Regions from separate parts of the Homo sapiens genome. Here regions 2, 3, 4, 5 and 6 are each reported to be linked to region 1. The links are microRNA targets in miRTarBase. Many come from high-throughput screens and were not tested one by one. Region 1 holds a microRNA gene; each other region holds the end of a gene's coding sequence.

The links. The annotated mature microRNA hsa-miR-218-5p reads UUGUGCUUGAUCUAACCAUGU and lies in region 1 at 3,094-3,114, opposite strand. An mRNA with a match to its seed (bases 2 to 7 or 8) in the 3' UTR can be bound and repressed. Matches are read on the target gene's strand: a 7mer-m8 pairs with bases 2 to 8, a 7mer-A1 pairs with bases 2 to 7 and ends in A, and an 8mer does both.
Region 2: the mRNA of KLHL31 is a reported target of hsa-miR-218-5p. Seed matches in the 3' UTR shown: 7mer-A1 at 4,712-4,718.
Region 3: miRTarBase lists PGAP2 as a target of hsa-miR-218-5p. The part of its 3' UTR that is shown has no 7-base or 8-base seed match.
Region 4: miRTarBase lists BIRC6 as a target of hsa-miR-218-5p. Seed matches in the 3' UTR shown: 8mer at 748-755.
Region 5: miRTarBase lists NAV1 as a target of hsa-miR-218-5p. Seed matches in the 3' UTR shown: 7mer-A1 at 2,592-2,598.
Region 6: the mRNA of ARSG is a reported target of hsa-miR-218-5p. Seed matches in the 3' UTR shown: 7mer-m8 at 1,964-1,970.

What each region holds. Positions count from the first base shown.
Region 1 is chr5:168,765,118-168,770,349 of GRCh38, forward strand. MIR218-2 (microRNA 218-2) reads right to left here and starts at 3,138; the gene lies at 3,029-3,138. All of the region lies in intron 14 of SLIT3 (slit guidance ligand 3), which reads right to left.
Region 2 is chr6:53,647,767-53,652,998 of GRCh38, reverse strand. KLHL31 (kelch like family member 31) reads left to right here. Exons shown (of 3, transcript NM_001003760.5): 3 at 669-5,083. The coding sequence ends at 1,401. Among named protein-coding and RNA genes, the nearest start is that of KLHL31, 15 kb to the left of the region's middle. RefSeq lists enhancers at 893-1,112, 1,143-1,202 and a silencer at 1,574-1,868.
Region 3 is chr11:3,824,380-3,829,611 of GRCh38, reverse strand. It overlaps PGAP2 (post-GPI attachment to proteins 2), which reads right to left. Exons shown (of 7, transcript NM_014489.4): 6 at 4,484-4,592; 7 at 3,241-4,284. The coding sequence ends at 4,154. It overlaps RHOG (ras homolog family member G), which reads left to right. Exons shown (of 2, transcript NM_001665.4): 2 at 1,406-2,634. The coding sequence starts at 1,474. The coding sequence ends at 2,049. Among named protein-coding and RNA genes, the nearest start is that of RHOG, 14 kb to the left of the region's middle.
Region 4 is chr2:32,617,196-32,622,427 of GRCh38, forward strand. BIRC6 (baculoviral IAP repeat containing 6) reads left to right here. Exons shown (of 74, transcript NM_016252.4): 74 at 530-1,683. The coding sequence ends at 709. Among named protein-coding and RNA genes, the nearest start is that of TTC27, 8.2 kb to the right of the region's middle.
Region 5 is chr1:201,819,290-201,824,521 of GRCh38, reverse strand. It overlaps NAV1 (neuron navigator 1), which reads right to left. Exons shown (of 34, transcript NM_001389617.1): 34 at 1-4,685. The coding sequence ends at 4,590. The region is part of intron 1 of IPO9-AS1 (IPO9 antisense RNA 1); the gene reads left to right. Among named protein-coding and RNA genes, the nearest start is that of IPO9, 7.3 kb to the left of the region's middle.
Region 6 is chr17:68,418,722-68,423,953 of GRCh38, forward strand. It overlaps ARSG (arylsulfatase G), which reads left to right. Exons shown (of 12, transcript NM_001267727.2): 12 at 1,468-2,093. The coding sequence ends at 1,742. WIPI1 (WD repeat domain, phosphoinositide interacting 1) reads right to left here. Exons shown (of 13, transcript NM_017983.7): 13 at 2,560-3,099. The coding sequence ends at 3,052. It also overlaps a transcript of PRKAR1A not described here. Among named protein-coding and RNA genes, the nearest start is that of MIR635, 3.2 kb to the right of the region's middle.

The DNA.
Region 1 (5,232 bases):
GAGGAAGAACAGTTTGCTCTTCAAGGCGATGAGCCTGAAGGCGTGCACCGGCTGGGCTGTGGCTGGGGACAGCCGCCTATTAAATGCATTTTCATTTTAATCAAGGTGAGAGCAGCCTGTAGTTAGCAGGAATCGCTCTCAGTAGTATAGTTAGATTATAACTGGTGGACCTCTGCAATGGAGCCGCTGACCCATTTTAATGAAATGATTTTGCAATTAGATTCGATGGACTAATGTGTTCTTTCCAGCATTTTTCCCCCTGCTGTTTTTGTTATTGCCCTGGTTTGTAATAACAAGGGGGTCGGAATGTGATATTTTATACGAGTGGGAGCCAGAAATGTTAATAACGGCGTATGTACATAACCGAAAAAGTTCGTTCCCCAGTCAGAGCCAGCCCGAAATGCCATCTCCATCACTTCATATTTCATTACCGAAACTACTCAGGGTTTCTCAGAGCCATTTGTTATGCCTAATGCTCATAACTACCCCAAAGTATTTTTAACTTTTCCAGAGCTTTAAAAGTCAATTTCAATCTCAGTGCATATTTGTCACTGCCAGAAATACTTAGTAATAGAGGACCGACTGCAATAGGCTGTTGCTTCTTCTCTTTGGGGTGAGTTCAGACAGAAGAGATCCCAGAGGATTTGAAGAAGGGCCATAAAACTCAACCTCGGCTGAAACCAGCCTTGGAAGAGCTGATGTCATCTGGCATCTTGCCTGCTCCTGCCCCTGGAGCCCTCCTCCCCTTTCGCGGGCAGCTCAGAACAACGACACTTGGTACGTGATCACAGACAAGCTTTAATAGACGGGGGGGTGGGGGTAGGAGGTGGAAATTACAGCAACACAATTTTATTATACATCCCTGTCCTACAGCCACTTCCCAGGAGGAACACTTGTCACATTTGGATGACCAGGGGTGTGGGACAGGTAGGGAGCCAAGCTCCCATGTTTGAATGGACTTGGCTGGGTTGGGATCAGAGGCCAGCACCAGGTCCAGGATGGCTGCTGCCATCAACGGTATGCATTTTGTATCATCCTTTGGGCAGCCAGTTTGCTGACTGGGAGTCATAAATTCATTGTTATCTGATCATCATGGACTTGCTAACTCATGTTTCCAGAGCTCTCCTCCCCTATTCCCAATATCCCTAAGATGAGTGGAATAAAAGAAAGGAGGAAAGAAGCAGAAAGAGGAATTGGGGGGAGCGTAAGTCCTGTCAGGCCTCATCAGCTTGAAAAGACAGTGATGTGAATAAGCAAAGGGTCATAAGTGATGAATGACTAAGGAGAACACTGCCAGGCACACAGACATCCACTCATGGGCAAGGCTGGGGGACCAGCTGCCAGTGGCTGGAAGATGCCAACTGTTTTACTAGGAGTTTGGTCACCAGTTGGGCAGGGAGCCGTCCTAGTAAGCTATCCCCTTTGGAGTCTATTATGAGTGCAGCCATCTGCCTGAAAACAGAGGGAAATACCCATGGTCTGAGGCTGGCACTGCCTCATCACAGCCTGTGGCTGCGGGGCCAGTAAAGCACTGATGGAAGGGCACCATTATGGACCCACTCCCAGAGGCCTGGTCCCTGCCATGTTAGGGGCAGTGCCGAGGGCCTCAGAATGCCCCTCTCTGTAAGGTGGGAAAGGGAACTTCTCCAGGCTCGAGGATTTGCTCTGTGTTAAATGGGATCTTTGTATGTCCATGCTGGAGAGGAACAGCCATTTGAATAATGCTTTCTCTCTTACTCAAGTTCTTTCTACTAACAGATGAAAGTCTGAAAGGGAGAGTTTAAGCAAATTTCAAGTCCCTATCAAATCACAGTTTTTAAATGTTCTAATTCAAGGCAATGGGGTTGTCCACAGCTGGGAAGGTGGGTATTACAGCAGTACAGTGCAGCCATTCTGGAATCAGATGACCCTGGGTAAGTTAGCTAACCTCTCTGAGCCTCAATATCCTCATCTGTAAAGTGGGACTTTAGATTTTGTGAACATTAAACAAGGTAATGATGTGAAAACAGTTCACTGCCTGGCCTATAGCAAGCACTCAATGTATGTTAAAAAACTACTAAGCAATGGTTGGGCTCCTGGTTCTGAGGGGTAACCTCAGATAGACGAGGTAATAAGAGTCACACCTCATGATGGGGGCCCAGGGCTCAGCTTCTAGTTCTGAGCTAGGCTAAAGTTCCCACCTTAGCTCTCTCTTGCAGAATAGGACAAAGACTCCAGGACAGGAATGAACAACACAGTCTTCTGGTTACACTGGGTCTAGGATTTATCAAGGAACAAGCAAAATAAGAGGTACCAAGATCCCTCTCTTTATTATCAGAGATAGCAGGTTTCCACGTCCACACACACTCCCCTCCCCTGAAACAGAATTAGCACCAGGTGAGGAGCCCAGCACCTCCACGTTAACTGTGCTTTGCAGGTCAAGGAAACAGACTGGACTTTAGGTTTCATGGGGTTCAGGGACTGTGTTTTCATAAAGTATGGGAATGAGGTTCAGAAGGAACCTTGGGTTAAACCCAAAGTCTCAGACTCACATGAGTTTCACCCATTCTCATGCTGACGTTCATTTCAAATAAAGTGAATACCAATAAAGGTGGTGGTGGGAGGGGTCGGGGGTCACAAGCAGTAGGAATTCCCCTTTGGGTTAGCTGCCACTTGGAAAAATGACCTTGGGTTGGGACTCTCCCATGAAACCATGGGGCGTATGCCTTGGGTATACTTGTTCCCTTCCAGTGGAAGAAGAGACACAGTAGTTTCTGAGCTTGAACCTAGTTATTACTCCTTGTCTGACATCCAGACTAGATTTGGGGGAGGGTGACTCCATTTTGGGAAAGAGATGTGGATACAGATCTCTTTCCCCAGGGTGCTTCTCCAGACCCATTTCCCTCTGTATCTGCATCCTTTGAGACTCCTACCCTCCTGCCTTTGGTGAGTTGAGACTGGGAGAGGTGGGTCTGGCAGGTGGTGGGCTGCGGTGCTCCAGAGCAGAGGAGAGGTGTCCAGCGGTGGTGGCGGCGGTGGCGGGCCATGCTGCAGGAGAGCACGGTGCTTTCCGCGGTGCTTGACAGAACCATGTTCCGTTTCCATCGTTCCACCACATGGTTAGATCAAGCACAAAGGAAAGCCCCGCAGCGACTGGTCAGAGTCAAGGTCAGGAAGCAGCGTCAGAGAGAGGACAGGAGCGCTCAGAGGAAGCAGCGTGGAGAAGCGGAAGCCGGAGCAGGCCCCCACTGAGCGTGATTAGTATCAGGAGTGGGGTTCCACTGGAACACTTCCGAAGATTGCAGCCCTGCTGCCCTTGTGCCCCACCCCAGGGAGACACAGTAGGAAGGGAGAAGAACGGGAGGGAAATCACTGGATGCCCATACTCGGGAGCTTCAGGACAGCATGGTTCCTTCCCAAGGAAAGAAAGAACACTCAGACATCTGTGATCCTATCACATGCCTGAATTGAGCCTCTAAACTCCATTCAGTCACACCAGTTGGTCTGACAAGACATTAAACTTAGAAAAGCATCTTCTGCATGCTTTGCAACATAGGCCCAATCCCCCCAACAGCTGAGTGGTTCCATCACAGTCATTCCTCTAGCCCCTTAAGTCAAGAGACAATCCACAGTTCCCAGTGGTCTAGCAAACCTTCAATGCTGTTCTTTAGGAAAAAGCCCCCTTTGACATTCCACAATTCAGGAGTCTCCTTTATATCCTTTGAGGTCAGCAGGAATGCTCTGGCTGATAGACACTCATCCCAGATCATTTGAGGTTTAATAGAGGAGCAGTGGGGTGTCAAAAGAAAATATATCTCTCTAGCCAGAGAGAAAGACAGGAAAACAAATGGGGCCGTAGGGTTTGGACTGAGGAACCTGCAATCATAGTTGTTGTTTGAGAACACTGACTTTCACAGAGATGGTGGCCAGTGCGCCTCCTGATGAAGGGCCTCTTTGAGACTAAGAGAAGGAAGGAAAGGGAAGCCAAGTGATGAGTCTGAGGGGAAGACACTGAATTCTGGGGTCCTTCTTGATTTCTTGTTCTCTTCCTTAGCTGGAAATTATGGGAGCGAACAGGATGAACCAATAACCACTGTCAGGATGCCAAAGGCCCAGGTGAGGGTACCCAGTTTTTATATTCCTCTCTGTGATAGATCAGGGTCAGTTTCCATGAACCTGCTGACTTGGGACTTCCTCCCACTTGGCATTAGGCTGGAGATGTGCATCTTGAAGAAACTGGAGCTAAGGCTAAGTGACTGAGACCCTCCCTGCCTGACCTCTGACATGAGAACCAGTATCAACATTCTTCCACTATGTGTTTTTGGGACTGGGCATATCCTCTAGATGGTCTCAGCATCTCAACGGTGCATAGGTTGTCTGCCATGTTGGACCAGTTAGGAAGAGCCAGCCCACAGCTCTGGGTCTGTCTGGCCTCTCCTCCTTCCTAAGGTCTCTCATCACACGCACTAGAGTCAGCCACTAGAATCTGGACTCCACTCTGCTTTGACACCTATGCAGGGCTCTGTGAACACTGTGGTTCTGGGACTTCAAATGTGAGTTTGATTAGGACCCTGGTACAAGAGCAGGGGAAATCCATCCTGTTCGTGCAAACCGCCACCCTCACCAAGCCTTAAAATCTAATTTTCTTTCTCTTTGGTTTCTTCCTACAAAAAGAAATGGAGGGATTTGTAGGTAAATTATCAAGAGTCTTCACAGTATGTCAGAAGTCCTGGGTTTCAGATCTTGCCCTAAAAATAATACTCAATACCTTAGATAAGATTTTTCTGCTGTGTGGACCTCAATTTATCCATCTCTAGAATAAACTGGATGACCTCTAAGGTTTCTAAAAGTTCTGTAATTCCTTGAGAGCTATCTTGCTGTTCGCCGTCTTTGGACACTTTGCGTCACCACCCTCTGTACTTTTCAGCAAGAGAGTTTCTTCTCACACAAAGCGGGGAGGCATGAAGGAAGACAGACAGCACCCTGCAACTGCCAAGTGCTCCCAGGGATGGGCTTGGGGTCCCAGGCAGCCAGACGGAGCCTTTTCAGGAGGACTTAATCTGATGGTCAGATTACCCCAGCCGGCAGCATCCAACCCTAAACTGATCTTGCTGCCCAAGGCGGCGGATGCAGCTGATAGAGAGAGGCAGACACAGGCAGCTGGGAAACCAGACGCCCTGCCTAAGGAGGGGCAGGATGTGTTACGGAGCAGCCCTCAAATTGCCTCCTAATTACATCAGCTGTCTTTTCAAT
Region 2 (5,232 bases), not on the chromosome of region 1:
TGCTGGAAAATAGAAGAGTATCCAAAGTTAAGCCTTTGTTGATGCTTTTAGACAGTTCTATTGGTCTCAGTCTAACAGACAAGAGAAGACTTTGCTGAGTGGCTTGGCTTTACTGTCGCAATGGCCAAGAGAGGTGTAGGATTAAGGGGTTTGTGAGAAATGGAGAAATCCAGTCAGTCAATTCGTATCTTAAACTGTGACAGGGAGCTAGGAATGGTTGGCATCTGAGGATATGCAGAATTGACTTTAATATGGCGATGCCCTTCTCTGATCGCCACTCCTCTGATCGTCACAAATGCCCAGCCTCCCCCATGTGCACATCTCGTAAATCCCACTGGATGATAGATATTTGAATATGGAGGAAAGGGGGACTGAAAGCTCAGTCTCTGTGGGCTCTTCTCCAAGTGGCCCCATAAAGGGAGTGCTTATAAACGGAGGAGAGGCTTATAAACGGGGGCGAGGGGTGGTCAATGCCTGCTTTGTCTTTTCCAAGTGTCACACATTTTTACTGGCTGAGAGAGAAACTCCAGCCTCCAGGTGAGGTGCTGGGCCAGGTCCCTCGCCTCCTTGCAGGGGTAGTGTCAGGCTTCCCACTCATGATTTGCAAAGTAACATGGGGTCCCCAGCTGCCGCCGACAAAGCTGTTACACCTTCTCTATCATTTCCAGATACGATCCCCGCTTCAACACCTGGATACACCTGGCCAGCATGAACCAGAAGCGCACGCACTTCAGCCTGAGCGTGTTCAACGGGCTCGTGTACGCCGCGGGCGGCCGCAACGCAGAAGGAAGCCTGGCCTCGCTGGAGTGCTACGTGCCCTCCACCAATCAGTGGCAGCCGAAGACGCCCCTGGAGGTGGCGCGCTGCTGCCACGCTAGCGCGGTCGCCGACGGCCGCGTGCTGGTGACCGGAGGCTACATAGCCAACGCCTACTCGCGCTCTGTGTGCGCCTACGACCCGGCCAGCGACTCGTGGCAGGAGCTGCCGAACCTCAGCACACCCCGGGGCTGGCACTGCGCGGTCACGCTGAGCGACAGAGTGTACGTGATGGGCGGCAGCCAGCTGGGGCCGCGCGGGGAGCGCGTGGACGTGCTCACCGTGGAGTGCTACAGCCCCGCGACCGGCCAGTGGAGCTACGCGGCGCCGCTGCAGGTGGGAGTGAGCACTGCGGGCGTCTCGGCGCTGCATGGCCGCGCCTACCTGGTGGGGGGCTGGAACGAGGGCGAGAAGAAGTACAAGAAGTGCATCCAGTGCTTCAGCCCCGAGCTCAACGAGTGGACGGAGGACGACGAGCTACCCGAGGCCACTGTCGGCGTGTCCTGCTGCACCCTCTCGATGCCCAACAACGTGACTCGGGAATCCCGGGCCAGTTCGGTATCTTCTGTGCCAGTCAGTATCTGAGCCCAGGTAGATGCAGGGACGCAGGAAGAACACGTTATTTATTCGTAGAGCCACGTGGTTAACCTCTGAGTTCGCGAAAAGGAAAATATTTAACATTTACTACACTGATTGTATTGTAAAATATGTCGAGGCACATGTCCTGATGGCTTTAAATTCCTGGTATGGCATAATCTACCTCTTTTTTTTTTTTTTTTTTTTAGCAAAATACAGGGCAATGGCCAACAAAAGAAACAATTTATTTCAGCGGCCACTGGGTGGCAGACGGAATTCGTTATAGGCACTCTCCCAAGGCGGCATGTTTCCTAAATGTATAGCGGTTACACCCACATTTGAGATTTTTTCCTCTACACGTTAGTACACTTGAGGTTTATGTAAGTGATTTCATGTTCAAAAGTTTATTTTCCTCTCTCTCTTTTTTCTTTAGGAAGTTGAAGATATTCATATAGATTTTATTTATTTAAAAATGGAAATTGTCGATCTCCATAAAGACTTAAGATTTAATTCTGTATTTCAACGCAATTTTCCCCCCATATGTGATTGAGTAAAGGATTTTGAAAGATATCCCATGACAACGTAATAAAGCTTAAAACAAGATCTGACCGAAAAGGAATAGGGATTCCACCCAGGGACCCTAAATTTGATAACCTTTGTGTTAGCGGACATTCCTCTTCCTCCATGCCTCAGGCCCCAGTTTATTTTCTACCATAAAATCATGCTCTCAATGAAGTAATTGATATGAATCATTTAATTTATAGCATAAATTTAAGTCATTTGGTTGTTTCAACTAGAAGGATTTGCATTTTATCCCTTGTCCTCTATTAAAGAAGAATTTCACATACCCTGGGAGCCTTACCCTCACCCTAAAAACTACACCAACCTGGTTAAAGGCAACCTTGGCCCTAATGTACACCCCGCGAAGATCACCAAATAAAACTATGTCCCTAAGGACCATTAGCCTTAAGCTTAGAGAGCTTGAAGTTTACACAACCAATAACAATAATTTTATTTGCCCCAATCTTTTATATGATAAGAATGATAGAAACATTTGGAATTTGTAGATTTGGTAGTAACTGGATGAATGGGTTCTCCTGTTGATAAATGCCATTGTTTCCCATTTAATATGGATCCTCCTGATTTCTTAAGTAAAAATCAAGCACTCATCTCACGTATATAAAAATATATACTCATTCTGTCCTATTTTTATTAATCTCATCTGCTCCAAATGAGCTTTGGATTTATAATCAAAGTGTACCCACTTGATAGCACTTTTCCTATATGTTTGCCAAGTTTTGGGGAAAGGGAATGACTGTAGTAAATGATACATATTTTCCTTTTTTATAATTTATCACTTTATTCTTTGACAGTTTATTTGTTTTGGAGAGGAAGTGGCCTATCAATTATGGGTTATGTGCAATTGGATTTTGAAAAATAAAACAAGCTATTTAGGAATTGAACATGAGATATATGGAAATATAATTTGGTTTTTGTTAATCTCATCCTCTCCACCTTGTGTAGATAGGTTATTGCTAGTTATGATATTTATTTCTAAAATATGTTATTTGAACTGTGAAAAGTGGTTCATATAGTACACTTTGTGGAACAATTTTATATCATTACCCCGATGAAAAGTTCAATCTCTGGATATTTAATGATAACACTCAGGTAAGGGCTACAAACGCTGTAAATTAAGAACAAGATATTATTAATGTAAAAGCGCTGGGCTGTTTCCTTATCCCACACAAAGAATCTTTTACCTTGGTATATGTGGATATGGTATATTACCTTGGTGTATGTATATGTGTGTATACGCACACACTCATACAACTGAGAAGCCTATAGTATATGGTTAATTTTTGGAGAAAAGGGTGTTTTATTGTGGGTTACAGATCATAAGTGAGTGAATAGATGTAATTCCTTGATGCACACCAATAGATGTGTTCCCATTGACATCTTAGAAGTATTGTATGAAGAGGAGGACCTAGGGCTTGAAATGAAATGAGAATCAATCAATTGCAACATTACATGATGGAATAATGAGAAGAGATACTGAAACTAGAGGATTTTTCATCTATCAAAGCTTGATAAATTAGGTTGTGCAAAAACTTGGCAGTGGCTTTCTAGAGATGAAACTGGAGACATGTTAGTGCTGGATAAATCATTTAAAATTACCATTTAATTTATTTTCTACATTGTTTATCTGAAGACTCAGAAAATCCACATATTTGAGCTTACCAGACTCTTGGGTGCATTGCTGTTCTATCTTCTGCTTCAACAGTTAGGAAAATAAAGACCAATATGAATTTGGAATGTCAGAATTTCTGACATAACACATTGGCGAGGAGTATGGAATGTAAGGGTCGGTGAAAGTTTCATATCCTGGAACATCTTGCATTGCCAATTGAAAGACATAAAAGTATGCAGAATCAAAATAATATGTGTCCACTTTCATGTGTAAGTGAAACATATTCTTTACACCAACTATTGAAGCAGTTGCTCCTAGAAACCTAGTTTCTCCAGATTTCCCAAGTGGAAAATATTTAGTATGTTTTAAGCTTACATTCAATTACTCCAGAGTCTTAGGACCCAACCATATACTTCCTTTTATTTTTTATTAAAGAAAATGACTTGTTATTTTTGTAACGGCTGAGTCCTGTGATCAAATAAAAGCATCAGTTCAATATATCAGGGAAATTGCATGTTACCCAGCAACTGAAATAATAAAATTCAAGCTCTCTTTTTCTAAATGGGCCAGAGACCTGATGAGAAAGTCTCCAGGAAGCCAAACTTTAACATACTTTGTCCATTTTTAGTTAGGTTCTTGGTGCCAAGTTGTCATCCCTGATGCATTAGTTGCTTTCAGTGCATTGAATGAATTTTATTTTTACTTCCTATGTTGTAAGAATGGTTTTGAATAGAAGGTCAGTGATGGTACAGATTCGTATAATTTTAAAACATGATTAGATGGTAGTGAAGTGTTATGAGTGAGGAGGTATAATTGATGTCATGAGGAAGTGAGTACTGAATGGTTCTATGATTTAAGGTAAAGCAGCAGTTGTAGTAAGTGTATTTTACAAATACACATGTAAATAGAGGTTTACCTGGAAATATGTACGTTCTAAAAGGTCAATTTTTTAATTTTATTTTTTTGCTGGTTATCCTGGCCAAGTGTCTTCAGAACTCATCCAAGTTACGAGACGAAATAAACTAAAATCACCTCATTAATTTTTTTCCCTTAGTTACAACCAAATGAATTTATGTAATCTCTGAATGAACTACATCCCTATTCCAGCCGCTGATGAATATGTTCTCCAGCACAAGGCAGCATTAAAAGGAAATACTTTTCAGTATTTCTTTTCATGCCAAAAAACCTACAGAATAATTTTCCAAACAGTCCTTTATTCGTAATTATAAGAATTAAACAATCTAAAATATTAAAGATTTACCCTCCAGCACATTCACTGGGTAAAGACCATTTAATTTGCCCTCTCAGGGAATTTGAAATAAATTATTTGTCCTGGATATTCTTTAAAAACTTTTTATTTATTCAGCAAATTTTGGCAAAAAAATTTCTTTCTTTGCTTAAAACATTCTGGTACTATATAAGGAACAACAAACTAAAATGTATGTAGTGTTATTTTGTAATCTCATCACTATCAATAAAGCTGCATTCAATAAGACCTTAGTCAATGACTAAATATGGACAGTTTTGAAATATCCTTTCTCTGATGATTGGGGTGTTTGTTTTTTTCTCTACTTAGTTTTCGTGATGATTCACCTAGACAAAACAACAGCAAATGACAAGTAATTGAAAAAATGTTTCAACAGCTTGAA
Region 3 (5,232 bases), not on the chromosome of region 1:
ATTGGCAATCTGAGTGTACATGGCCAGATAGGGTTTTCAGTACTTACAAGAATGATGGGGTGGCCAGGTGTGGTGGTTCACGCCTGTAATCCCAGCACTTTGGAAGGCTGAGGCAGGTAGATCACCTGAGGTCAGGAGCTTGAGACCAGCATGGCTAACACGGCGAAACTCCATCTCTACTAAAAATATAAAAATTAGCCGGATGCAGTGGCACCTGCCTGTAGTCCCAGCCACTCGGGAGGCTGAGGCAGGAGACACTTGAACCCAGGAGGCGGAGGTTGCAGTGAGCTGAGATCACGCCACTGCACTCCAGCCTGGACGACAGAGTGAGACTCCATCTCAAAAAAAAAAAAAAAAAAAAATTTCCCCATTGCCAGAATACCCTGGATTGGGATAGGGCAGCTCTCTAAAGAATTGAGCCCCTTACTCAGCAGGTTTCTTAACTGTGCCTTTGGGTTTGTACTCAGTAGCCAAGATACCAGGTTTGGAGAGGGCAGGGTGGGCCCTGAGTTGAGAGAGGTTCTACTTATGGCTGCATCACAGAGTGACCTGGGACAGCTGTCCTGTGCCAAAACACTTTCCAGTCTCCTGGTGGAAAGGGTCCATATTTAGTAGAGGATCTAGTAGATCCCTAAATTTGTGCACTCTCCTTTTGTGTCTGTATAGCCTGGAAAAAAAAAATAGCTAATACTGGCCAGGCGCAGTGGCTCACGCCTGTAATCCCAGCACTTTAGGAGGCCAAGGCGGGCGGATCACGAGGTCAGGAGATCGAGACCATCCTGGCCAACACGGTGAAACCCCATCTCTACTAAAAATACAAAAAATTAGCCGGGCGTGGTGGTGGGTGCCTGTAGTCCCAGCTACTCGAGAGGCTGAGGCAGAATGGCGTGAACCCAGGAGGCGGAGCTTGCAGTAAGCCGAGATGACGCCACTGCACTCCAGCCTGGGTGACAGAGTGAGACTCTGTCTCAAAAAAAAAAAAAAAAAAATAGCTAATACTTGTGGACGAGGCACTGTTTTAAATGCTTTACATGTATTATATAATGCTCACAATGACCCAGTGAGGTAGATATTATTTTATCCTCATTTTACTGGTAAGAAAACTTAGGCATACAGAGGTTAAGCAATTTTTTCAGGGTTACACAGCTAGGAAATAGCAAAATCAGGATTTGACCTTAGTTTGTCTGGCGCCAGAGTTTATGTGCTTTCTACCACATTATACTGCCTCTTTGCTTGGCCTCAGGGCCTTTCATTGTGTGTCTTTCTGATGACCGTCTTGATGGGACTTTGGGATAGTGTCAGGTTAAGGGAACAGGAGCCGGTTTCCCTTTGTGTGCCCCCATCTTTTCTTCCCAATAGGCAGAGGCCTCCCTAACCAAGAATGTCCCCTTTCATCTGTCCACAGGTCACTGCAGCCAGAGGGGTCCAGAAGAGAGAGGAGGCACTGCCTCCACTACAGCAACTGCACCCACGATGCAGAGCATCAAGTGCGTGGTGGTGGGTGATGGGGCTGTGGGCAAGACGTGCCTGCTCATCTGCTACACAACTAACGCTTTCCCCAAAGAGTACATCCCCACCGTGTTCGACAATTACAGCGCGCAGAGCGCAGTTGACGGGCGCACAGTGAACCTGAACCTGTGGGACACTGCGGGCCAGGAGGAGTATGACCGCCTCCGTACACTCTCCTACCCTCAGACCAACGTTTTCGTCATCTGTTTCTCCATTGCCAGTCCGCCGTCCTATGAGAACGTGCGGCACAAGTGGCATCCAGAGGTGTGCCACCACTGCCCTGATGTGCCCATCCTGCTGGTGGGCACCAAGAAGGACCTGAGAGCCCAGCCTGACACCCTACGGCGCCTCAAGGAGCAGGGCCAGGCGCCCATCACACCGCAGCAGGGCCAGGCACTGGCCAAGCAGATCCACGCTGTGCGCTACCTCGAATGCTCAGCCCTGCAACAGGATGGTGTCAAGGAAGTGTTCGCCGAGGCTGTCCGGGCTGTGCTCAACCCCACGCCGATCAAGCGTGGGCGGTCCTGCATCCTCTTGTGACCCTGGCACTTGGCTTGGAGGCTGCCCCTGCCCTCCCCCCACCAGTTGTGCCTTGGTGCCTTGTCCGCCTCAGCTGTGCCTTAAGGACTAATTCTGGCACCCCTTTCCAGGGGGTTCCCTGAATGCCTTTTTCTCTGAGTGCCTTTTTCTCCTTAAGGAGGCCTGCAGAGAAAGGGGCTTTGGGCTCTGCCCCCCTCTGCTTGGGAACACTGGGTATTCTCATGAGCTCATCCAAGCCAAGGTTGGACCCCTCCCCAAGAGGCCAACCCAGTGCCCCCTCCCATTTTCCGCTACTGACCAGTTCATCCAGCTTTCCACACAGTTGTTGCTGCCTATTGTGGTGCCGCCTCAGGTTAGGGGCTCTCAGCCATCTCTAACCTCTGCCCTCGCTGCTCTTGGAATTGCGCCCCCAAGATGCTCTCTCCCTTCTCCAATGAGGGAGCCACAGAATCCTGAGAAGGTGAATGTGCCCTAACCTGCTCCTCTGTGCCTAGGCCTTACGCATTTGCTGACTGACTCAGCCCCCATGCTTCTGGGGACCTTTCCTACCCCCATCAGCATCAATAAAACCTCCTGTCTCCAGTGGCCCCGGCTCCTCCCTGTGTGCTGGGCATTAGCGGGTGGGCATGGGCTAGGGCTCCCCAGAGACTGGGAGCCTTTTGTTTCTTCTAGTAGACAATAGGCTTCATTGTGGTCCCCTCACCCCTCAATTTCCCTAACAAAGCTCTAGGCTCCCTTGGAGGGGGCAGTCTTGCTCTGGGGCCCAGTCACAGATGCTGTAGTGGACTCAGACACAAAACCTGAGGAAAGACTTCTTGATCTTAGGGCTCAGAAAGGGAGAGGTTCAGAGCCATTAGTCTAAAGGCAGATGCTCCCACAGTCATGCATGTGACAGCTGTACCTCACATCCCCAAGAGGACAGCTTTAACAACAAGAGTTGGAATTTGAACCCAGGTCTCTGTCTCAACTGAAGACTTCCAGGTACCCTAGCTTGCAGTCCTAGAATCATTACAGATAGCTCACTCACTCCTGCTCACCAAAATAAAGGCTTAGACCAGCTTTAGGAGACTCCAGACCTAAGGGGGACTGGGGGGTTCTGCTAGGAATCATACCCTGCCGTGGACTTACTCCCTCCCCATTCTTGAGCCTGTTTCTCTCCCAGTTCCTATCAAACAAGATGAGCCCCAAGACTAGCAAGCCTAGGCAACTGTTGGCCCAAAAAAAAAATTTATTTTCCTTTCAAATAAAATGTACAACCAAAATTTAGGGTTTGGAGCAGTAGGGAAGACAGGAGATACCAGGGAGCCCATTTTACAGTAGAGATCTGCATCTGACCCCTCTATCCCATACCTTTGCAAAGGAGGGGAGGGGTCTACAAGCCAGAACTTTCAGAAGAGAAGAAAATACATGCTGTGCTGGTGCTGTTTCTGGAGCAGGTCATCCTTTAGGTATAGAACACCACCTCCACCCGATGACATCAGAACCACTGACTGGTAGAGTCCTTGGAAATCATACAGTCCACCCATCCCCCGCCAGACACATGGACACACCGAGGCTCAGATGGGGAAGGGTACATACCCTAGGGCACACACCAAATCAAAAAGGTGAAGTCAGGACTAGAACACCTGAGCAACTTTAGCAGGGGACTGTGGCCACAGGCCTGGATGTGCACAGTAGATCATGAAATACATTAGTCCTATGAATGACCCCCGTGCAGAGAAATGGCTGTGGTTGTCAGGGAGCAGCCACTGCTCAGGGGCTCCTGACCTCAGTGAAAGGTGACTGTGTAAAGGCCAGAAACTGGATGGTGGTCATGAACCTCAGGACGTTTTTTTTTTTAGCACCAAATGGTGGAGCTCTCTGCCAGCTCAGCTTCTTGGGGCCTCTCAGGTAAAGGTGATGTTTGAGGACCCCACGCCCATATGAGGGGTGGAGAGGAGAAGCCAGCAGCACTGGGGTGAGCCTTGGCCTACACCCTTCCTTCTTACCCTTCCCCCATCTTCAGTAAGGCCAAGAGAGGATGTGGGGTGGGGAAGGCCAGAATGGTATCGTGTTTCTTGTTTCTGGGCAGTGGGCTGCGTCCTCCCAAGCAGGACTGAAGGGTTCAGAATCGCTTTTCCTCAGGCTGAGAGGTTATGAGCAGCTCCTTGTTCCCGAAGTCCCACCAGGCCGTCATGTGGAACGCCATGTTGGTTAAGACAACAGTGTACTCCAGGATGGCAAAGATGGTGTACACTGTTGTGAGGACACAAGGAACAGGACATGGTGAACTTCCAGCTACCCGCTCAGAGGCCTCTTGATAAATCACACCACCATTGGTCTGCCACAGAGAACACAATGGCAGCCAGTCCCCAAGACCATTGCCCATTATCAAAAACATCATTGCTGCCCCGCAGCCACTCATGACCGCCTGTGGATCCTATCCTGGCCTCACCTCCAGCCTCACAATACATGTTGTGCCGAAAGTAGACAGCCAGCGCCGAGAAGAAGGAGATGAAGTTGATGATGAAGAGCCGCTGTTTCCAGCTGTAGGACTTGCGATCCTAGGGAATGGGCTGTCTGATCACTCTGCAGCTTGCTGGGTATGAGAGCGTGGGCTCCCCTCTCAGCCCTAACTCCTAAGGGCTGGGCCTTATCTCCCTTGGCTCCCACTAGCGGTCATGGAAGGGAGCACAGGCAGGGGCAGCAAGAATGACGACTATGTGTTCACGTCCCTGCCTCTGGGGGAGTGATGGGCCGAGGAGCAGTGGTATTCCTGCCGCTTCCACTTCAGGGGGATGGAGTATGAAAGTTACATGGAGTCACCCACCAACCCCACCTCCAAATACTGTGGGGGAAAAGAAACCCATGTACATGGGTGGGGCGCTGGAATTATGACAGACCAGTCCTCTGACACTGTTCCTAACTCACTGCCGCCTAGATGCGACTCCTCATTCTATCCCCATTTGCAGCCTCCATCTCTTCTATTCTCCAGTCTCCCACACTACCCAAACACAGTGCTATAGTCCTAGATTCTGACCAACCACCCTCAGTTTGTTCCCAAGCCCCAGCCCCAACCCCAGCACCCCTCTGCCAGGGTTCCCATTAGAACTCAGTTCCCACCTCACCATTACCCGAATCCTGAGGACAGATGTCCTTGATTTTCTTCTGGGCTGCCTTGGAGCCCCCGCTAGGGATAGACCG
Region 4 (5,232 bases), not on the chromosome of region 1:
TCAAGACCAGCCTGGCCAACATAGTGAAACCCCATCTCTACTAAAAATACAAAAAATTAGCTGGTTGTGGTGGCGCCCACCTGTACTCCCAGCTACTCAGAAGGCTGAGGCAGAAGAATCACTTGAACCCGGGAGGCGGAGGTTGCAATGAGCTGAGATCGCGCCAGTGCACTCCAGCCTGGGCAACAGAGCGAGACTCCGTCTCAAAAAAAAAAGAGTATATGTATCTAATAATGTCCTTTAAATTGTCAGTAATGCTGTTTCTGTGACAGCTTGGCAGCATGGGTAGGATCTACTGGTGGGTTACTGAGGTCTTTTCAGCAACATCGGTTACTTTGAGGTTAAGGATTCTTGTCAGTTTTGCTTACCTACTATATCAAGTGCCTGTAACAGTAGCTTGCATAAGGAGGGGCTCAGTAAATATTTGTAGGCTTAATGCTTTGGGCTTTGTTGAAATTCAGTTCCTGCCTCAAATGATGTTGTGCTAGAGGGTTTGCAGTTCTAACATTAGTCCTTTTCTCCTGCATAGCGTCACACTGCTCAGCTCCGCGAAGAGTTGCTGAAACTTCCCTGCCCTGAAGGCTTGGATCCTGACACTGACGATGCCCCAGAGGTGTGCAGAGCCACAACAGGTGCTGAGGAGACTCTAATGCATGATCAGGTTAAACCCAGCAGCAGCAAAGAACTCCCCAGTGACTTCCAGTTATGAGCTGCATTGATGTGGACTTCATAGACACAAAGGCTTCGAAGCACAAGCCAAATATGTCAATATTTGTATGTAAGAAACTAATTATGTAATAGGTAATGAAACTGAAACTATACTATGCCCTTAAGGAGATCCAGTTTAATTCAAGGTGATCTTTTATTTACCTGTACAGGAGTGTAAACTTTTTTGTGCTTTTATTTTTCAATTGTGAGAACCACTGATTGGTATGTTCAACAAATTTGTGTATACAAAGAAATGGATAAATCACTGCTATATAAGGGAAACTACCTTAGGAAAGAATGTTTACTGAATGTTTATTTTATTTTATTTTTTTTTTACTATAGAGTGAGGGGTTGTTAACAAAGAATATATATTGGTCATTCTTACAACTACTATTTAAAGTCAGCAACTTTTCACTGAATTTGATAGATTTTATGTTTGGCCATATCTTCATGCTCACATTTGATTTCTGAAGACCTCCTACATACACTTCAATAAAAGTTAAATGGACATACTCCCTCTTTTTTGATTTACTGGTACATTTTTAAAATAATAAATCTGCCATAAAATGCATTATATCTGGAGACTTGCACTTGTATGGATGAATTTATTACATTCAACATATTTAATTTTATGCCTTCTAATTCTAAGATGCAGAAAAAAATAAATGAACATGATTTTATTCTATGCCAACATTTGGGCCTCTGAATGTATCTGTTATTTGAATTTAAGTATTTGAAAAGGAATGGTCAATTTGAAAGTCATTCTAAACTGATTTTTTTTTTCTAAAGGGCTCCTTTTTTCCTGGACTATGTGGTTTTATGACTAAAGTCACATGTATGTATTAAACATTGAGGCTCTGTAGAGGAGAGAGGATGTACCTCTCTGGTGCTGTTACAGTACATTCTGTACCTGCCATACAGGCTCATTTTCATGCAAATTCTTCCTAGAGCCAAATAAATAAAGACTTAGGTGAATTAGTATGTCTTGTTTCTAAACCCCTTTGCCATGGTGTGAAATGCTATTTCTATAAAGAATTGAACACTTTCAAGACTTAAGCATGGGAAAACAAAGCATGTTTTTCCAAGACCAGTTGCCGCAGGGGAAAGGCTAAGGTGATTCTTTGACAGTATTTTTATAAAATAAAAGTGGCGGCTGTGCGCGGTGGCTCACGCCTGTAATCCCAGCACTTTGGGAGGCCAAGGCAGGCGGGTCTCCTGATGTCAGGAGTTCGAGACAAGCCTGGCCAATGCGATGAAATCATGTCTCTATAAAAATACAAAAATTAGCCAGGCATGGTGGTAGGTGCCTGTAATCCCAGCTACTCAGGAGGCTGAGGCAGGAACTGGAGCTGACGCCTGAATCTGGAGCTGACCAGGAGAAGCCGTATTCTGAAAGGCGAGTTGCTCTCTGATGAAAAAGGGGATCTTGGGGAAATGATACTCTCTTATGTACAAAGTATAAAGCTCCTTCAGCATGGAAAAAGGAGAAACGAATAGTATTTGGACAGGAAATCAAAGATTCTAAAACACATAGTGTTAGGTCTGGTGGGTAGTGAGCTACACCGAAAATGACAAAATAGTGGTAGTTTACAAGAAGAAAAAAATTATGTCACCCACAGACATGCCAGCTAAAATCTAAGTATAAAATTATCAGCAATAATAAAGGACAGTCATTAATCCTTTAGGCTATTTTTTGTTGTTTTTGTTTGTTTTTGGACTGTGAGTGCTGGATGATAAAAGCTGTATCAAATGTATTGTTTGTCTTCCATGTAAAATGAAAGTAACAATACCAGTACTATAAGGTCCAGTTCATATTTTTTAAAAACCAAAGTCTAAACACCTAAATTGGAACCAATTACATTAAAACATTCCATTTGAGATCCAGACTTTATGTCAACAAACATTTGAGCACTCATTTTTTACTAGTTCCAAGTTCCTGCACTTGAGGAGTGAATGACAGACATGAAAACATGTCAGTGCCATCTGGTAAGGTCTCTGGTAGAGTTATTTACAGGGTAATATTGGGAGCACAGAGGAGAATCCTTATCTCAGGCAAAACGTTGGGTGGGCACTGAGGTGATAATGGTCTGGAAAAGCTTTCTAAGTGCAGACTAATTCTTGAAGGATGAGGATAAAGAAGTTAGCCAGGCAGAAACAAGATAATCCAGACACAGGAGAGCAAAAGGAGAGCTCAGGTTGATGGCACCATATTGGATGTTACTGGATTTTTAACAGGCAAAGTGAGGATAGTCAAAAGGGATGGGAGGCAGTGGTTTTGGAAAGAGAGGAGGGGTCAGTTCATCCCAGGCCTTTGCTTGCCCTGTTAAGGAACTTTGACTTCCTGTAGGTAAAGGAGAGCTCACAAGTAGCTCTAAGGAAGTAACCTGATTAGTCTATTTCAGGAAGATCATTCTGCAACCTGTTGAGAAGCGAGGAGATCAGTTAAAAGCCTGCTCACATCCAAGCAATAGGTCATAAACTAGGGCACATAAACTGTGGAGATTAAGAGACAATTGACAGGACTTTGGGAAATACATATATTTGTTAGGAGAATAACTTTAGCATGTTTTCAGGCTAGGGAGCCAGGGGAGAAGTCCTTGGGGAAGGATGGAGCAAAGCCTAACAGACATAAATGACCTGGGTCCAAGAGCACATGCGGAGAACTTGAAGAGATGTGAAAATCAGTAAAGTGAATTGGTCTATTTGTGAAACTTTTAACTATATAAAGTTTTTATCTTAATGAACAGTAAAAAAACAAAAAGTAAAACTGCTTAAATACTTTCCTAGCATTAAGACAAAAATCTCCAAAGTCAGACAAATGTAAAATGTACTGTAGGCTGGGCATGATGGCCCACACCTGTAATCCCAGCACTTTGGGAGGCTGAGGCGGAATGATTGCTTGAACTCAGGAGTTTGAGACCAGCCTGGGCAACATGGCAAAACCCCGTCTCTACAAAAAATAGCAAAATTAGCTGGGCATGGTGGCACATGCCTGTGGTCCCAGCTACTCGGGAGGCTGAGGTGGGAGGATTGCTTGAGCCCAGGACATGGAGGCTGTAGTGAGCCTAGATCACGTGACTGCACTCCACTGTGGGCAACAGCAAGACCGTGTCTTAAAAAGAAAATTAATGGATGTTTTTAACCCATCTCTTACTGTTGGACAGTTTGGAATTGCTTTTGTCTCTGCTTTTCTGATTATAACTAATGCTGTGATGAGCATGGTCTTATCTTTATTTTCTTATGATAAATCCTAGAAGTAGAATTCCTAGGTCAAAGGTTTTGATATATAATGACCGCTTTCCTGAGAGGTACTGATTCACACTTGGAAAATCTTTTAGTGTTGTCATGCGTTGGCCAGCATTGGAGATTATATAATTTTTTGATCTGATATTTTATTATCATCAAACATGTTTTAATGTGCATTGAACATTGTTTATATTACCCATTTGAATTTCTACTTTTGTCAGTTACCAGTTTATACCTTTTCCCTATTTTGTGTATTTTCTTAGAGTCTTTTAGTATGTATCAGCTACTTATAGTAGAATATTAGTTTTTGTCAAACTTCTGTGTATTTGTCCAGATGGCCTTTTAATTTTTGTTTAATTTTTCTCATAGAAGTTTTAAATTGTGGGGCCGGCCGGGTGCAATGGCTCACTCCTGTAATCCCAGCACTTTGGGAGGCTGAGGTGGGTGGATCATGAGGTCAAGAGATCGATACCATCCTGGCCAACATGGTGAAACCCCATCTCTACTAAAAACACAAAAATTAGCTGGGCGTGGTGGCAGGCGCCTGTAGTCCCAGCTACTTGGGAGGCTGAGGCAGGAGATTTGCTTGAACCCAGGAGGCAGAGGTTGCAGTGAGCCCAGATCGCACCACTGCACTCCAGCCTGGTGACAGAGCGAGACTCCGTCTCAAAAAAAAAAAATTTAAATCGTGAAGTCATCTATTGATCTGTTCCTTTCTGATTTTAATTGCATTTTATTCCTTTGAAGTTATTCCCTATGCAAAGGCAAAAAAAAGGCTATATATTTTCTAACTGAGATTGATTTTTGGTATTGTTACAGGCTTCGCTGCAACTGAATTGCAACAGGCTTGAGCTGCTTCCCATCTCGCACCCTGCAGAGGCAGGTATGGTGGTGACAAGCCAGAGTCCACATGTGGATGGAAGATACAAGCCATGTTGAAAGGAAGCTCCATCCTGCTTTCTCTTTCCTCTTCAAACTCTGCCCAGTTTCTAGCAGCCATCCAAGCCTCCTTTCTCTCAGCTTCTAGCCTCCTGATGCTTCAAGCTCTAAAGGGGCTGACGTGAACCCTGTGAGCCTATACATTTCCTGTATAGAAGAGGCATTCTCTGGCCTTCTTTCTCCCTTAGTTCCTGGATGTGATCTCGTAGTGCTCCCATGAGCTCCACCAAAAGTCTGCTTTCCATTGCTTCCTTCATGTGTGTCCCTCTTCAGGTTGCACTAGCTGTTTTCCTGTGCAGGAAGAGACTGCAGCCCACCACCATTTTAATTGTTTTCAGT
Region 5 (5,232 bases), not on the chromosome of region 1:
GCAGTGCTCACTTCCAGGGCTAGGCTGAGCAGACATGCACCCATGCACCCTGGTGGCCCCATATATCCGTAGTCAGGTTGATTCAGGACTTATTAAAATATAAGGCTGATTGGATTATAAGGGGCAATATCTTCAGGCTTTGGCCTTTGGGGAACAGTGTTCATAAGATCATTTTATTACTATGGCCTTCTCAGTGGAGCCATGAGCCAGAACTTGTGAGTAGTATATCCATCTCTATTAATAAACCCTCTGCAAAAGCCCATTTTTCCATCCCATCACAGGGGTTGGCTTATGAAGTCGGCTTCTTAACTTTAGCTTAGTCAGTGCCAAGGAATAAGGAAAGCAAAAATAAAGTATGATGAGGAACTGCGCTTGGTGATCTGGGTCACTTCAGCACTTATTCCCTGTGTTAAATGTGTGATTAGGACAATTCCCCCGCCCTCTCCAAATAATGGCAATAAAGAGTTCTTAAGGTCTCATGCAGATATCTTCTTGACCTTGATTTGGAGGACTGAGTCCCCTTCAGTCAGGCAAATTTTACCTAAATGCAGGGTTTCTATGTGGATGCCATCCCAAGTGAGGATGTGAGGTGTCTGTGAGAAGCAGCAGGCTACCATTTCTCTCTTCCTACTCTTTTAGAATACTTTAGGAAATAGTTACTCCTCAGACCACTGTAAGGGGTTATCCCTCTGAGTAGTGTGACCCTTGTTTCAGAGAGCTAGAAGTGAAGAGATGGTGAGATTAGGTACACTTAGTCTTGCAAACCAGGAAAACCAGAAGGCAAGACATTAAGAGAGAAAAAGAAGCCCTCTATTTTGTCTTTAGTACTTAAGGAATATGGATAGATCAGTTGGAAAGTTGGCAATTCAAGACTAAAACAGTATACCAACCAATGAACATTTCATTGTAGGGTCTTCCCATGGACTTGTAGCAGATTTGTCTTCCCTGCCAGCCTCTACCTTCCCAATGGTTAGACATGAAAAAGACATGGGTACTTAAGGATTGACACAAAGACAGAGATAAGCACCGTAGAGCTGCCACAAAGCATAGATTTTAAAAAATACTTTGAAGCCTCAGAAGGTAGGAAACAGCAACAGCAAACTGCTCTTGTGTGTGTGAGAGAGGGAGACACACACACACACACACACACACACACACGCAGACATCAGGTCCCACATTAGCCTCCAATGACCTAGTATTTTATTTTTAGTGCCTAGGCAAGGTCTGAGAAACAAATACATTGGACAAAACTTGTTGGTCTTCTTCATCCAGAAATTAAGGGACTCAGCTCAGGAACCTCTCCTGGAGTTGTGGCTCTCCCCATTGGTTGACATTAGATATTGAATTCATGTCATTTCCTAGACAACTGTGGTGAGGGATGGAGTTGGGGGGCTGGAGAGGAAGATAATAGCACAAATTCCAGTATTAGGCTGGATTCTTCTGAAGGTGCCTGGCGGTTGAGAATTTAGCTATGGGACCCAGTGTTTCTTTTCTGAAGGATCCCAGTAGTCTCAACCAAGAAGCAGGACGTAGGTGGGAGAGAATGCTGTAGATTTGCTCCTTGCCATAAATTCTAGGGCAGTGAGTGGGGAGCTCAGGTTTTCTGCTTCAGAGAAGTCTGGATGAGTGTCCCAAGGGGTTATAGCACCATGAGGAGGCTCAGCCTTCTGCAGTTGCCATATAACTGTGATTCCTTCATGAGAATGATCAATCCCCACAGTGAGGGGCCCAGATGTGCAACTGTAAACAGGGTCCCAGGCTCCAGAGGGAAAGCCGAGGCTTCAATACTACCTCACTAGACGGGAACACACTTTCTGGAGGAAAGCAATTGGAGACCTGGCCTAAATGCAGCAGTCAGCTGAGAGTAGAGGGTGGTGGATCCCAGGAAGAGAAATAAAAAGTCATAGCATGAGGCCTCCAGAATCAACCTGCTGAGGATCCAAATAAAATTCATGGTGGTATCCATGGTTACCAGAGAGCCAAGAATCCCTTTGGGGTCGGAGGCAGTTGGAATGAAAGAAGGGGTTCTCCCCTCTCCTTTTTCTCAAGTAGCCAGTAACATCCATGGCAGAAGGCACTGGCTGGGCAGCACCAGAAAATAGAGTGAAGCGCTCAACCATCAGATTAAGATGGCATTAAAAGTCTGAGCCTTGCCATGGAACTGGAGCTTAGGATAGGGTTTAGAAGAGGCCTAGATCCCAAGCAGGCCCATCCAGTCTTCTCTTCCTTCTAAGTTAGAACAGCCAGCTCGGGGGCCTCCTCATTCTGCACAGCAGAGACCTTAAGGCAGTGATTTCAGCACCATCCTTGGACACACAGCCTCTTCCCACCACAGAATTGCATATGTTACAGCTGAGTTGGTTAGGGATCTTCACAGCTCATGGAATTAGCAGCAATAGCAATAATAGTCTCCATCATACAGAACCCTGTCATCCATGGGAGCTTACCACGTGGATGCAGAAGCTTTTGTGAGGGGCAGCCCGGACCATCTTTTGGACTTAATATACCGATATGAAGATTCAGATGCATCTACTCCTCGGTTGGGTGGAAGAGTGATCCAGGTTGGTATGCCTATAGATTCTGATAAAGTCTTGTGCTACTTAGGAATCTGAAGAGCAAACACTTAGGCCGGTGCTCATCACATATCCTTGACCTGCAGAGTCCTGAAGCTTCAGCCTACTAGGCAGCTCAGCCTAGAAGCTGGTCCCGCGGGGCTTTCAGAAATGGCAGGAAGTAGACTTGCCCATTCCTGACAAGCAAGATTCCATAGTCCTTCAGGCTCCATCTTAATTGATCCCAGATCTTCTGCCCCCAATGTATTGTACATCTAATCAAAAGCTTCTTTCTAGCTGGCTCCTTGGGTTTCAGCTACATTTCTTAGATGATCCCGAAGGTCTAGATAACAAGGGGGCGTAGCTGAATGGAGGTTAACATTTCCTGCTGGACTGTAAACTTAAGGGCCCAGGTCTTGTGTGTGTGTGTGTGTGTGTGTGTGTGTGTGTGTGTGTGTGTGTGTCTGTTTTAACCTAATGATTTGTATATAGTGAGTACTCAGTAAGTACTTGTCAAATGAAAGAACAGGGATTGCCAGACCTTCAAGGCAATGGGAAAGGAGCAAATCTGCAAAGGTAGGATCTCTTTGGAAGGCAGGTATTGGCCACCAAGTCAAACTCCTTGAGTCTTATATTCTGATTGGGATGATCTCACATGGATGTTCATCTCTTATATGTGAATACTCATTTGTGAAAAATAGTAAGAGCCAGCTAGGATATTTGGATTCAGTCAGGCACCATCAGAATAGTGCAGTGAAAGGCCAAACTGGCCACAAGACAGAGGAATGTTTTCAGTTTTCTGGTTTTCCTCTGGTCCATGATAAAGCTCGGAGTAACTCTTCTATCAAGATGGGGCTATACCTTCTCATGACAGAGGCTGGCAATTGAGCTACCCAGCAGAACGTGTGCTCTCAAAAGGGAAGTCAAGGGAACTGGGTTCCTCTTCTCCCTCTACTTCTGAGCCAATGCTTCATGTCTCATATAAGCCCCATGGATGCCAAAGATAGTGGCATGGCAGGTGTCATGCCAATTGCATGGCATCAGATTCTCCAAAGAAAACCCACTTGGAAAAGCCAAACTAGCCCCTGGAAAAGCAACCCAAGCATCTCGTGGACATGTGAGGAAATGGAAAAACGGAAAAAGAAAAAAAAAAGGGAAACAAAAAAATAAATAGGCAAATGGGAGAAAAAAATGAAAACAAAATAAAAACCAAAAATAAAAAAGTAGGGTTTATTGACTCTTATGCATTGTTAAATTAGAGGGTAGAAAGACAGAGCTGGTAGTCTTTCCCTGAAGGCTGTAAGGTTATTTTTGTGGTTTGGTGACTTCTCAGGTTGGCAGCCGTCTTGTTGATGTCCCCTATGTCATCCAGAGGGCAGGAGCGGGCAGCTCTCTACCTTGGCAACTGGTTCCTCTCTCTCCAGCTTCATCTTTTCCATTGTTTTTTGTTTGTTTGCTTGTTTTTGTTTTTCATTTTTACCTTTTACAGATTGATTTAAACATTTTTTAAACCACATGCTTCTTTTTCTGGGCTCCAGCCAGATCTCTGGGGGAGGAGTTGTTGGCAGTGGTGATGGAATTGGGAAGGGTCTGTGAGAAAATCTGAGGAGCTTCCTGCCTCCCCCAGATCTCCCTCACAAGACTGTCTCTCTCAGGGTTGCTTGTGAGAATCATTTAGGAACTGCTGCAGTGTTTTGATGTTTTCTGAACCCCTCCCCAGAAAGCCCAGGAGTTTGTAATTGAAACAAGAAGTCAAGGGAAAGACCCAGAATCATCTTTTCCCCAAAGTCATTAGAGGAGGCCAGTAAATGTGTTTAGGGGGCACAAGTTCCCAAACGCCACCCCACCATTCCTTCCTAGGAAGTTCTCAAAGGTACAGCACCAAGAACCTGTCCCTCCTCTTTCATCTCCTCCTCCCTCCTGTTCTCCTCCTGGGGCTGGAGAGCCAGTGCTCTGAAAGAGGAGAGGGGAGAGGAGGAGCTAAGATAGCTGATGCCAGCGTTCTGCTGTCCGGGGGTGACAGTGATTGCCGAACCCTTAAAGTGTTGCCTGAAGGTTGGGGTCCAGGATGGTTTCTCGATCTGGAGACTCAATGTAGTTGGCAGCTTCTTGAAGTTTCAGCAGCATGGCCATCTAAAGGGGGGCAAAAAGATGGATTTATGAGAGTTGGGACTCTGGGTCCTGCCCACAGAAGGGAAACAACAACAACAAAATCCCAACACTTTGGGAGGCCAAGGTGGAAGGATAGCTTGAAGCCAGGAGTTTGCAATCAGCTTTGAAAACAAAGAGAGACCCTGACTCTACCAAAAAATAAAAATAAAACAATAAAAAACTGGCCAGGCGTGGTGGCACACAACTACAGTCCCAGCTACTCAGGATGCCAAAGCCCAAGTGGGAGGATGACTCGAGCCTATGAGCCTAGGAGTTTGAGGCAGCAGTGAGCTTTGATATCATCACTGCATTCCAGCCTGGATGAAAGAGCAAGACTCTGTCTCCAAAAAAAAAAAAAAAAAAATCTAGATCATGGGTCTGATCCTTGGTTTCTCAGTGATGAAGAGCTCAGAGTTTAGAGTGGTTTGTGAAAAGGCAATGAGGATTTCTTCAATGATAACTGTGACACATGTGTATGTACAACAATTACTTGGGAGTATGCCTGCTATACAAGGGACAAGGTACCATT
Region 6 (5,232 bases), not on the chromosome of region 1:
TTATTTTTCATAAGAATGCCAGTGAGCATTCCATCCTACAGGGTCCCCTGTAGGAGAAGGAGCCACTGGAAGAATTTCTCTCAGATTTTAGTGCCAGAAAAAGCTCTGCTTCTCCTGAGCAACTGATAAGTTTCTATCTCATTAATGTTTGGCTGCTGCTAAGCTCAGAAGCAAAGTCAGTGTTTAGGAACTCTTGTAATTTTGAGGGCTATCTTTTGCTTTAATTCCCTTTGTTTATTTAATTATGTCATATTTATTTCCATCAGACCCTTAACTGCTTTTTCTATAGCAAAGCCAAAAAAAAAAAAAAAAAGTCATCGGAATCATAAAGAGCCAAGGAAGCTGCTATCATTCCAAACATTTTTGTCCTTCCTCTTCTGGATGGCTTTCACAGCCAGATTCGAATCCACGTAAGACTGTCATCTTCAACCCAAAGTGAAATGACTCACCTGCCTTTCTACTTGATTCACCAATTGGTAGTCAAGAAATCGATTTTCAAAAAAATCAAATTTACTCCTAAAGGGCAGAGGTTAAAGATACTTTAAAAAATTATATCCTGGCTGGTGTGGTGGCTCACGCCTGTAATCCCAGCACTTTGGGAGGCCGAAGTGGGCAGATCATGAGGTTAGGAGTTCGAGACCAGCCTGGCCAACAGACCAGCCTGGCCAATATGGTGAAACGCCATCTCTACTAAAAATACAAAAATTAGCCGAGCGTGGTGGCAGGTGCCTGTGATCCCAGCTACTCAGGAGGCTGAGGCAGGAGAATTGCTTGAACCTGGGAGGCAGAGGTTGCAGTGAGCTGAAGATTGTGCCATTGCACTCCAGCCTGGGTGACAGAGCGAGACTCCAACTTGAAAAAATAATTATATCCTGATTTTGTGTCAATAAAGATACTTGAATGAATGTTCTACTGGCCCTGAAGGCGAGTTCAAGGAGAACTTCCAAATCATTTTAGTGTGGCTGCAGTGGTTCCTGCTGATAATCCCAGCATTTTGGGAGGCTGGGACAGGAGGATTGCTTGAGGCCAGGAGTTTGAGACCAGCTTGAGGAACATAGCGGGACCCTGTCTCTGGAAAAAAAAAAAAAAAGTTGGGCGTGGTGGTGCATGCCTGTAGCCCCATCTACTTGGGAGGCTGAAGTGGGAGGATCACTTGAGCCCAAAAAGGCTGAAGCTGCAGTGAGCTAGGATCACGCTACTGCATTCCAGCCTGGGCAACGAAGCCAGACCCTGCCTCAAAAAACAAAAACAGAAATGAAAAAAGCAAAACATTTTGGACCACAGGATCATCACTGGAAGGAGCAAATAGATTCTCAAGGTAATATTTCTTTGACAGAGAGAGCCATCATTGGAACATTTGGTTATCTGGTATGTTTGAATTAATGTAGAATCACTCGCAGCTCTCGTCTTTACAACACAGGGCAACTGTCAGGGTTAGCGAGGCATTTGTTGTCATTCCCTCTCTAGGTGGAGCCAGGGCGTGTGATGGGAGCACGGGGCCTGAGCTGCAGCATAAGTTTCCTCTGATTTTCAACCTGGAAGACGATACCGCAGAAGCTGTGCCCCTAGAAAGAGGTGGTGCGGAGTACCAGGCTGTGCTGCCCGAGGTCAGAAAGGTTCTTGCAGACGTCCTCCAAGACATTGCCAACGACAACATCTCCAGCGCAGATTACACTCAGGACCCTTCAGTAACTCCCTGCTGTAATCCCTACCAAATTGCCTGCCGCTGTCAAGCCGCATAACAGACCAATTTTTATTCCACGAGGAGGAGTACCTGGAAATTAGGCAAGTTTGCTTCCAAATTTCATTTTTACCCTCTTTACAAACACACGCTTTAGTTTAGTCTTGGAGTTTAGTTTTGGAGTTAGCCTTGCATATCCCTTCTGTATCCTGTCCCTCCTCCACGCCGACCCGAGAGCAGCTGAGCTGCGCTGGCTCTGGGCAGGGAGTGTGCCTTAATGGGAAGCACACGGGCTTTGGAGTCAGGCACAGGTGCCAGCTCCAGCTTTTGAACTTGGGCAATTGTTTAACCTAACCTGCAAGTTGATTTTGAGGGTTAAATAAAGGCATACATGAAAATGCCTGGCAAATTACCTGACACAGAGCAGACATTCAATACATTTTAGTTTCCTTGTTTCTCTGGTTCCCAGTTTCTCTGGTCATTTTGGTGTAAATCCATTCTAATTAGTATTTAGGGCAGAGCTTCTCTCTCTTTTCTCTTTTTTTCCTTCCACAAACCAGTGTACTCACTGGTCTCCATCTTTAATATGCAAACAAATCACCTGGGATCTTGTGAGAATCCGGATTCCGTCTCAGTAGGGCTCGAGTAGATCCTGAAATCCTACATTTCTATCAAACAATGCCTTGAGGAGCACAGATTTAGACCAAAGTTAGGTCGTTTTCCAGATCTCAGAGCAGACGAGTCCATGGATAAGTCTGTGGCCCAATCCCCTTCCTCTCCTTTTAAGGGTGAAATGACTGCATTTAAAAGAAGTTAAAGAGTTCCTCCTGTCCCCTATAACCACAAGGAAACAAAAAAATATATAAAAACCTCAAAAATGCATTGCCATGATTTTATTATTAGTGTCCAAAATGGGACTCCCAAGTAATAAATGATTTATTCCAGCCACAGCCAAAAAAGACTTTGCCTGGCTAAAAGAGTCTCTCTCTAAGTATGTAATATACAAGAAATACAATTCAAAGAGATGTTCCTATAAGTACATTTTTTACACGGCATATATTTAAAAAGGAGGCCCCTTTTAATATAAAATTCCGGTTATATACCAATATGGTTAATTAGCATTTACACTATAGTTTGAACGTATTTTAAATAGCATGATGTGTATACAATGTCTCCCGCGCCCATTGGCAACCAGGGTCGTGGGAAGCTTGGTGAGGAGTTAACCAGGTCCTGTGGTTTAAGCAGTGGAGCACCCGGGATTCCTGCCCCCCTTTCTGCTCACACAATTGCACTCCATTCTTCCGCCTTCCTTGTTTTCTCCAAAACCACCTGATAGGGGGGATGTCCTGATTTCTGAGGTGTGCTTCTCATCATGACTGCTTCGTTTTGCCCTTCTGATTTCCACGGCACAAGATTATCTACCAAAATCAAAACAGAATGGCCTTACTCTTCTCAGGAAGAGGCTGGTAGGCAGGTGCATTATCAACAGGTCTGTGCCCATGCAGAGTGAGCAGGGAGAGGCTGGGCACTGTGGAATTTTTCTGTCTGAACTCGCTCATGGCCACAGAATGGTCACCCAGCTTATTTAGGTGTAGACAAGTATGACACAGTTCTAGAAAATACTGACTATAAAAATGTCTCTGTGTGTGTGTGTATGTATTTATATGTATATGTATATATTTTTAAAAGGCTCATCTTACTTGTAAACATGGACTGCTCAATCACTATTAAAAAGTCAGTTTAGGCTGGGCGCGGTGGCTCACGCCTGTAATCCCAGAACTTTGGGAGGCTGAGGTGGGTGGATCACTAGGTCAGGAGTTTGAGACCAGCCTGGCCAACATGGTGAAACCCCATCGCTACTAAAAAATACAAAAATTAGCCGGGCATGGTGGCGCTCACCTGTAATCCCAGCTACTCGGGAGGCTGAGGCAGGAGAGAATCGCTTGAACCGGGGAGGTGGAGGCTGCAGTGAGCCGAGATCGCACCACTGCACTCCAGCCTGGGCGATGGAGCAAGACTCCATCTCAAAAAAAAAAAAGTCAGTTTAGGCTGGGCGCAGTGGCTCACACCTGTAATCCCAGCACTTTAGGAGGCTGAGGGGGGTGATCACCTGAGGTCAGGAGTTTGAGACCAGCCTGGCCAACATGGTGAAATCCTGTCTCTACTAAAAATACAAAATTTAGCTGGGCATGGTAGCATGCCTGAAACCCCAGCTACTTGGGAGGCTGAGGCACTAGAATCACTTGAACCTAGGAGGTGGAGGTTGCAGTGAGTGGAGATCACGCCAACACATTCTAGCCTGAGGGACAGAGTGAGACTCTATCATCTCAAAAAAAAAAAAAAAAAAAAAAAAGGGAAGGTCAGTTTATACCCTTGGGCCTGATTTCCTGACTCTTGCTCACAAGATTGGGACTAGTCTCACAAAATACAGAGACTTGTACAGGTTGGCTTGTTCCTGAAACAAAAGCTTCTCATCCTCCCGAATGTAGCAGCTTTCTAAGGCACCAGAAATGATCAAGTCTCTTTTCTTTCACTGCTCTCAGAGCAAAAGTAAATCCCAAGGAGGCAAGCGTGATCCTACGCAGGGAAGTGTCAGTATGTGTTCTGAAAAGATCACTAGTGATGACCCGCGTTCTTAAGGCAGCGGCTCACAGAGCTCCTGTAGCAGACTACTCAGGCAAGCCTATGTTTGTTCGTCACTACAAGAGAGGCGATTTTAACCAAGCTGAGACTCCAAGAGCCTTTTGTGGTCCTAGAAGATTTTAAGGAATGTGAGTAAAGATGTGAATTCTGCACAGAGATTTGCAATAGGCATGACAATTCAGAATAAGGAGACAGAGAGGAAGTTCCCTAGCATCCCTCGCTGAACATTTCTGCCAATTCAGGCATGACTGAGATGGGCCATATTGATAGAGCATCCCAGGAGCATGCATGCCTCTGGTCCTTACATGGTGAGATGGAGAAGCCTGCCTGCTACTGAGACAGTGCCTTAGTGGGAGCACTGCCCCTCATCACCATCTACCTGCAGGCTGGAGGGCAGACTGAGAGGTTGGTGGCTGCCACGACACAGCCCTGCACACAGGGGCTGCTTGACACTCACAAGGGTCTAACACCTGTTCTAGGGACCTTGTTCAGTGACCACTCTCACTGGCAGGAAGTATTTCTTGCGTATAAATAAGAATTCCTGATGCAATTTCAACCAACTTTCACTCATTTGGTCCTTAGGAGGGAGAAGAAACAACTGGCTCATGCCCAGCTTCCTGGCACTGAATGGGCACACAGGCCTCAGGACAAACTTTCTTACTGGTTCTTCAATTAAGCACCTCCCCTTTTCCTTTTTACCCCAAATAAATGATCTGCACAAGGTACCTATTATTTTATACAGGTTCTTTGGCAAGGAACTACCTCCTAGATACTAATATCCACATTACCCCAATTCTGTAACTATAAGAGGTTGCAAGGCTTACTGCGATTACAATTAAGAATCTAATAATATTTTATAGTAGTTACAGACTTTTACCAAAATTAGTGAAACGGAACCTAGTGAGTGT